Linked DNA regions of Homo sapiens: region 2 is reported to be linked to region 1. The links are microRNA targets in miRTarBase. Many come from high-throughput screens and were not tested one by one. Region 1 holds a microRNA gene; the other region holds the end of a gene's coding sequence.

Region 1 (4,148 bases):
CACCTGGGCTGATGGCTTAGGCCCCTACTGGGGTGAGGGAGGGGCCAGGCGTGGGAGGAGTGGACAGGGAAGCTGGGCCCCCTGAACTGCCCCCCACCGCGGCCTGGCTCTTGCTGCTCTGCTGCCCCGAGTGCAGCTGCACTTGGAGGCGGTGCCGTCCTCACCAGGCAGCCCTCAGTGCTGCTGCACCTGTGCTCCGTCCCGCACGTGGCTTGGGAGCCTGGGACCCTTAAGGCTGGGCCGCAGGTGCAGCCGTTCACCCCGGGCTCCTCAGGCGGGGGGCTTCTGCCGAGCGGGTGGGGAGCAGGTGGGGGTGCCGCGGCTGCCCCACTTGGGCCTGTCCCCACAGGTGAGTACGTCCTGACCTTGCTGGCATCTAATGCCTTCGAGAACCGGACGCAGCAGGTGCCTGTGAGCGTGTGCGCCTCCCTGCCCTCTGTGAGCGTGTGCGCCTCCCTGACTGGGGCCTGCTGGTACCCCAGAGTGGGTGTCTGTTCCCCAGTCCCTGCTTTCCTCAGCTGGCCTGATTGGGGGTCTGCCCAGAGGGGTCGTCTGAGGGGAGGGTGTGGGAGCAGGTTCCATCCCGGCTCAGCCTCCTGACCCAGGCCCTGGCTAAGGGCTGCAGGAGTCTGTGAGTCAGGCCTACGTGGCAACTGCGGTCCTCACACCCACACATACGTCTGTTCCCACACGCATCCCCCCAGGGGCCCTCAGTGAGCATTGCCTGCCTCCTGCCAGGGTCCAGCTGGCTCCAGTACACCAGAACGCACACCCCAGTGTCCTCTGCCCTGTGTATGCCCTTCCGCCGCCCAGGTTGGAAGGTGGCAAACCGGATGAGTATCCTGGGAGGGGGTGAGCTCACCGGCAGTGGCCAGGCCCCTGGGAAACCTGGAGTTTGGGAGCAGCATCCTCCACGGGTCCCCCAGACCTTCCAGCAGGCCAAATAGACCTGTGTTGGAGGTAACCCCACTCCCACGCCAGGTGCTGATCCGCAGTGGCCGGGTGCCCATTGTGTCCTTGGAGTGTGTGTCCTGCAAGGCACAGGCCGTGTACGAAGTGAGCCGCAGCTCCTACGTGTACCTGGAGGGCCGCTGCCTCAATTGCAGCAGCGGCTCCAAGCGAGGGGTGAGTGTTGAGCGGGGTGTGGGCGGGTTGGGGATGGGTCCCATGGCCGAGGGGACGGGGCCTGCAGGCAGAAGTGGGGCTGACAGGGCAGAGGGTTGCGCCCCCTCACCATCCCTTCTGCCTGCAGCGGTGGGCTGCACGTACGTTCAGCAACAAGACGCTGGTGCTGGATGAGACCACCACATCCACGGGCAGCGCAGGCATGTGACTGGTGCTGCGGCGGGGCGTGCTGCGGGACGGCGAGGGATACACCTTCACGCTGACGGTGCTGGGCCGCTCTGGCAAGGAGGAGGGCTGCGCCTCCATCCCCCTGTCCCCCAACCGCCCGCCGCTGGGGGGCTCTTGCCGCCTCTTCCCACTGGGCGCTGTGCACGCTCTCACCACCAAGGTGCACTTCGAATGCATGGGTGAGTGCAGGCCTGCGTAGGGGGAGCAGCGGGATCCCCCGACTCTGTGAGGTCACGGAGCCCTCCCGTGATGCCGTGGGGACCGTCCCTCAGGCTGGCATGACGCGGAGGATGCTGGCGCCCCGCTGGTGTACGCCCTGCTGCTGCAGCGCTGTCGCCAGGGCCACTGCGAGGAGTTCTGTGTCTACAAGGGCAGCCTCTCCGGCTACGGAGCCGTGCTGCCCCCGGGTTTCAGGCCACACTTCGAGGTGGGCCTGGCCGTGGTGGTGCAGGACCAGCTGGGAGCCGCTGTGGTCGCCCTCAACAGGTGAGCCAGGCCGTGGGAGGGCGCCCCCGAGACTGCCACCTACTCACCACCCCCCTCTGCTCGTAGGTCTCTGGCCATCACCCTCCCAGAGCCCAACGGCAGCGCAATGGGGCTCACAGTCTGGCTGCACGGGCTCACCGCTAGTGTGCTCCCGGGGCTGCTGCGGCAGGCCGATCCCCAGCACGTCATCGAGTACTCGCTGGCCCTGGTCACTGTGCTGAACGAGGTGAGTGCAGCCTGGGAGGGGACCTCACATCTGCTGCATGCGTGCTGGGGACCAAGACCTGTTCCCCTGCCTGGAGCTTTGCGGAGGGCTCATCCCGGGCCCCAGAGATAAATCCCAGTGACCCTGAAGCAGCACCCCGACGTTCCGCTCCCAGCAGCCACACCCACCGGGCCCTCTCCGGCGTCTGCTTTCCACAATGCAGCCCCCGCCCAGGAGGGCCCATGTGCTTACCCTGTTTTGCCCATGAAGAAACAGCTCAGTGTTGCGGGTCAGTGCCCACATCACACAGCATCTAGCACGTAACTGCACCCCGGGAGTCGTGGGCATCTGCTGGCCTCCTGCCGGCCTCCTGCCCTGCTGACAGCTTGCTGTGCCCCCTGCCTGCCCCAGTACGAGCGGGCCCTGGACGTGGCGGCAGAGCCCAAGCACGAGCGGCAGCGCCGAGCCCAGATACGCAAGAACATCACGGAGACTCTGGTGTCCCTGAGGGTCCACACTGTGGATGACATCCAGCAGATCGCTGCTGCGCTGGCCCAGTGCATGGTAGGATGGCCCCACATGCTCTCCCCGCCCCGCATGCCTGCCAGGGTACTGGGTTCAGCCCCCCAGGGCAGACGGGCAGCTTGGCCGAGGAGCTGAGCCTCCAGCCTGGGCTCCTTCCTGCCATGGCGTTCCTCGGTCTCTGACCTGCTTCAGTAGCCTCAGCCATTCTGCTGTCCTGTGTGAACGCAGGGTGCCTCTCGGGGGACCCAGGGTGTAAAGAGGGGCCCAGATGTGGGGAGGGACTAAGAAGATGCTGCTCTGTGCCCTCCACTCTCCCCTCCCCTCCCCCTTCCCTCCCCTAGCCCCTCCCCTCCCCTTCCCTCCCCTAACCCCTCCCCTCCCCCTTCCCTCCCCTAGTCCCTCCCCCCTCCCCTAGCCCCTGCCTCCTCCCCCAGCCCCTCCCCTCCCCTAGCCCTTCCCCTCCTCCCCTCCCCTAGACCTTCCCCTCACCTCATCCCGCTGAGCCCCTCCACTCCTCCCCCAGCCCCTCCATCCCCTCACCCCTCCCCTCCTCCTTCCTCCCCTCCTCCCCCTCCCTCCTCTCCCCCCTTCTCTCCCCTCCCCTCTCCTCTCCCCCTTCTCTCTCCTTCCCTCTCCTCTCCCCCCTTTTCTCCACTTCCCTCTCCTCTCTCCCTTCTGCCCTCCTCCTTCTCTCATGTGAAGAGGTGCCTTGTGTGGTCGGTGGGCTGCATCACGTGTTCCCCAGGTGGAGGCCCTGGGTCATGCAGAGCCACAAAAAATGCTTAGTGAGGAGGCTGTGGGGGTCCAGTCAAGTGGGCTCTCCAGCTGCAGGGCTGGGGGTGGGAGCCAGGTGAGGACCCGTGTAGAGAGGAGGGCGTGTGCAAGGAGTGGGGCCAGGAGCGGGGCTGGACACTGCTGGCTCCACACAGGGGCCCAGCAGGGAGCTCGTATGCCGCTCGTGCCTGAAGCAGACGCTGCACAAGCTGGAGGCCATGATGCGCATCCTGCAGGCAGAGACCACCGCGGGCACCGTGACGCCCACCGCCATCGGAGACAGCATCCTCAACATCACAGGTGCCGCGGCCCGTGCCCCACGCCACCCGCCCGCCCCACGTGGCCCGTCCGCCCCATGCCGCCCTTTCCTCTGCCTCCCTCCTCCCCACAACCGCCTCGCCTTTGCCCCATCCCATCTTCGTCCCCCTCCCCTCCCCCCAATTCCCATCCTCATCCCCCTCCCCCAATTCCCATCCTCATCCCGCTCCCCCAATTCCCATCCTCATCCCGCTCCCCCAATTCCCATCCTCATCCCCCTCCCCCAATTCCCATCCTTATCCCCCTCCCCCAATTCCCATTCTCCTCCCCCTCCCCCTTCCCTATTACCATCCCTTTTCTCCATCTCTCTCCCCTTTTCTCCATTTCCCCCCCGATCCTCCCCGTCCTTTTGTCCATTCCCCTCATCTTTCTTATCCCCCTTATCCTCCTTCCCCTCCCTTATCCCCCTTCCCCTCCCTTATCCCCCTTATCCCCTTCCCCTCCCTTTCACCCTGCTCCTCTTCTTCTCCCCTTTCTCTTTTCTCTA
Region 2 (4,000 bases), not on the chromosome of region 1:
TTTTCATTTAAGTTTTTTCAATTGTATACTAACTCCATGACCTAAAATGAAAGACAGGACTCAGTGGTGCTTTTTCCGTTTTCAGGAAGTGTTTTAGATCACAGTTTGGAAAGCCTCATCCACCGCCTTCGTGGTTTGTGTGACAACATGGAACCTGAGACTTTCCTTGACCATGAGATGGTATTCCTCCTTAAGGGCCAGCAAGCCAGCCCATTTGTTCTCAGGGCCCGACGCTCTATGGACAGGGCAGGGGCACCCTGGCATCTGCGCTACCTGGGACAGCCAGAAATGGGAGACAAGAACCGCCATGCCCTGGTGCGAAACTGCGTGGACATTGCCACATCTGAGAACCTCACCGACTTCTTGATGGAAATGGGCTTCCGCATGGACCATGAGTTTGTTGCTAAGGGACATTTGTTCCGTAAGGGCATCATGAAGATTATGGTGTACAAGATTTTCCGCATCCTGGTGCCAGGGAACACAGACAGCACTGAGGCCTTGTCACTCTCCTATCTCGTGGAATTAAGTGTGGTAGCACCCGCTGGGCAGGACATGGTCTCTGATGACATGAAGAACTTCGCAGAACAGCTAAAACCTCTGGTTCACCTAGAGAAAATAGACCCCAAGAGGCTCATGTGACTAAGAGGATCTGTCCACATTTGGGGCCTATCCTTACTTGTTTGAAAAAATATGTTTGCTTTTTTTGGTTTTTGTTTTGTTTTGTTTTTGAGACAGAGTCTCGCTTTGTTTCCCAGGCTGGAGTGCAGTGGCACGATCTCGGCTCACTGCAACCTCTGCCTCCTGGGTTCAAGCAATTCTCCCACCTCAGCCTCCTGAGTAGCTGGGATTACAGGCACATGCCACCATGCTCAGCTAATTTTTGTATTTTTAGTAGAAATGGGGATTCACCATGTTGGTCAGGCTATTCTCGAACTCCTGACCTCGTGATCCACCCACCTTGGCCTCCCAAAGTGCTGGGATTACAGGCATGAGCCACCACGCCTGGCCAAAAAAATATGTTTTAAATGTCCCATTTCACCATTGCCAGGCAGGCATTCTTCCTTCAGGGAGAGGATGGTGAGAATTAATTGGTTCTTTGCACTGTTCTCCTCATGTGGCGATTTCACTTTCATGACAGCCTTTCTATATTAAAGGCTCAGGATGTCACGGAGAATCTATCTAATCCCACTGTATTAAGAGGGGAAACCGGGCCAAGCGCAGTGGCTCACACCTCTAATCCCAGCACTTTGGGAGGCTGAGGTAGGTGGATCACCCAAGGTCAGGAGTTTGAGACCAGCCTGGCCAAATGGTGAAACCCCATCTCTACGAAAAATACAAAATTTAGCCGGGCATGGTAGCAGGCGCTTGTAATCCCAGCTACTTGGGAGGCTGAGGCTGGAGAATCGCTTGAACCCAGGAGGTGAAGGTTGCAGTGACCAGAGATGACGCCATTGCACTCCAGCCTGGGTGAGAAGAGCGAAACTCCGTCTCAAAAAAAAATAAAAATGAAGAGGGGAAACCAGAATAAATTATCTTTTGGAAAGGACAATTTCTTGTTTGGCCATTTGTGTATAAGGTTGGTAACATTAGAGGCTGTGAGCTTGTGTTACATGGTAATAAAGCCAATGAAGAGACATGTCTGTGTAATTCTGATTCTTTATTCCCTTACCCTGTAAATTTGGGGTAGATTCATTACCAGTTGAAGCAAAAAAAATGACAGTTCCTAGTTTTAATTGTGGCAGAGATGAGGATGAGAGTTTTCACCTTTCATAAAAGTAGCATATTTATTGTTGAAAACTTTTAAAATATAGTACAGATAGAAAATAACACCTATTATCCAAAGAGAAGTACTAGTTCTATTTTGGTATATATCCATCTAGTCTTTATTTTTTTATAAATTTATGTATATGAAATGTGTTTATTTTATAAAAAGATTCCATATATACTGGTTTATAACCCTTTTTTCCCATTCATCTATCATTAACATCTTTCCAGGACATTTGTCTACACTCCCCTTTTGTTAAAAAAAATTTTTTTTTTTTTTTGAGACAGAGTTTCGCTCTTGTTGCCCAGGCTGGAGTGCAGTACTGCGATGATCTCAGCTCACTGCAACCTCCACCTCCCAGGTCCAAGTGATTCTCCTGCCTCAGCTTCCCAAGTAGCTGGGATTACAGGCATGGGCCACCATGCCCGGCTAATTTTTTTTTTTTTTGAGATGGAGTACAGTGGCGCACTCACGGCTCACTGCAAGCTCCGCCACCCGGGTTCACGCCATTCTTCTGCCTCAGCCTCCCGAGTAGCTGGGACCACAGGCGCCCGCCACCACGCCCGGCTAATTTTTTGTATTTTTAGTAGAGACGGGGTTTCACAGTGTTAGCCAGGATGGTCTCAATCTCCTGACCTCGTGATCCGCCCCGCTCGGCCTCCCAAAGTGCTGGGATTACAGGCGTCAGCCACCGCGCCCGGCCTTAATTTTTTGTATTATATTTTTTATTTTCGAGAAAGGGTCTCACTGTTGTCCACGCTGGAGTGCAGTGGCATTGTGTTTTTAAGAAACGGTGTTTCGGGCAGGGCGCGTTGCTCACGCCTGTAATCCCAGCATTTTGGGAGGCCGAGGTGGGCAGATCATGAGGTCAGGAGATCAAGACCATCCTGGCTAACACGGTGAAACCCCGTCTCCACTAAAAATACAAAAATTAGCCGGGCGTGGTGGCGGCCGCCTATAGTCCCAGCTACTCGGGAGGCTGAGGCAGGAGAATTGCTTGAACCCGGGAGGCGGAGCTTACAGCGAGCTGAGATCGCGTCACTGCAGTACAGCCTGGGCGACAGAGCAAGACTCCGTCTCAAAAAAAAAAAAAAAGAAGAAGGAAACGGTGTTTCACCATGTTGGTCAGGCTAGTCTCGAACTCCCTACCTCAGCCTCACCAAAGTACTGGGATTACAGGCATGAGCCACCGCACCCGGCCAAAATTTTTTTCTTTTTAAAGCTAGTTTATTGAGTTCCTGTTATGTGTCAGTGCTATCCTAAGTGCTTCAGGTATGTTAAACCCGTTTTGTAAACAGGAGAACTGGTACATATAGATTAATTAACTTTCCCTGAGCTATACAGCTACTGATTGGCAGAGCTGGTATTTAAATATTGACAATTATAATTGCTATTTCTATTTCATCATATGGATTTGCTATAAGTTATCTAATTGAATCCTCTATGATTTTCAGTTTGATCCCATTTTTTTTGCTTTTATAAGCTGTGTAACAATAGAGCTTTTATTTATTTATTTTTTTGAGACAGAGTCTTGCTCTGTCGCCCAGGCTGGAGTGCAATGGCATGATCTCAGCTCACTGCAACCTCCGCCTCCTGGGTTCAGGTGATTTCCAGCTAATTTTTGTATTTTTAGTAGAGAGGGGGTTTCACCATGTTGGCCAGGCTGGTCTCGAACTTCTGAACTCAAGTGATCTGCCTGCCTCAGCCTCCCAAAATGCTGGGATTACAGACATGAGCCACTGTGCCTGGCCTGATATGTACTTGTTACTCTATGTAAATCTAACTCATAACTTCCAACTTGCATATGCTTTCATACTAATAAAAGTATTAGTGTTTAAATAGTGTTTGCTCCATGACAGGTACTTTATTTTTATTATTTATTAATTCATTTATTTTTTGAGACAGAGTCTTGCTCTGTCACCCAGGGTGGAGTGCAGTGGTGCCATCTCGGCTCACTGCAACCTCCTTCTCCCGGGTTCAAGCGATGCCCCTACCTCAGCCTCCTGGATAGCTAGGATTACAGGCATGTGCTACCACGCCCAGCTAATTTTGATTTTTTTTTTTTTTTTTTGAGAGGGAGTTTTGCTCTTGTTGCCAGGCTGGAGTGCAATGATGCAATCGCAGCTCACTGCAACCTCTGCCTCCCGGGTTCAAGCGATTCTCCTGCCTCAGCCTCCCGAGTAGCTGGGATTACAGGCGGCCACCACCATGCCCAGCTAATTTTTGTATTTTTAG

What was found. Region 1 holds the annotated microRNA hsa-miR-6511a-3p (CCUCACCAUCCCUUCUGCCUGC, at 1,229-1,250, shown strand). A microRNA usually pairs through its seed, bases 2 to 8, with sites in the 3' UTR of a target mRNA and lowers its output. Matches are read on the target gene's strand: a 7mer-m8 pairs with bases 2 to 8, a 7mer-A1 pairs with bases 2 to 7 and ends in A, and an 8mer does both.
Region 2: the mRNA of MED18 is a reported target of hsa-miR-6511a-3p. Seed matches in the 3' UTR shown: 8mer at 1,076-1,083 and 7mer-A1 at 1,467-1,473.

What each region holds. Positions count from the first base shown.
Region 1 is chr16:18,341,117-18,345,264 of GRCh38, reverse strand. MIR6511A4 (microRNA 6511a-4) reads left to right here and starts at 1,186; the gene lies at 1,186-1,252. It also overlaps the pseudogene PKD1P4-NPIPA8 and the pseudogene PKD1P4. RefSeq lists an enhancer at 2,466-3,257.
Region 2 is chr1:28,334,332-28,338,331 of GRCh38, forward strand. MED18 (mediator complex subunit 18) reads left to right here. Exons shown (of 3, transcript NM_017638.3): 3 at 86-1,634. The coding sequence ends at 639. Among named protein-coding and RNA genes, the nearest start is that of MED18, 7.3 kb to the left of the region's middle.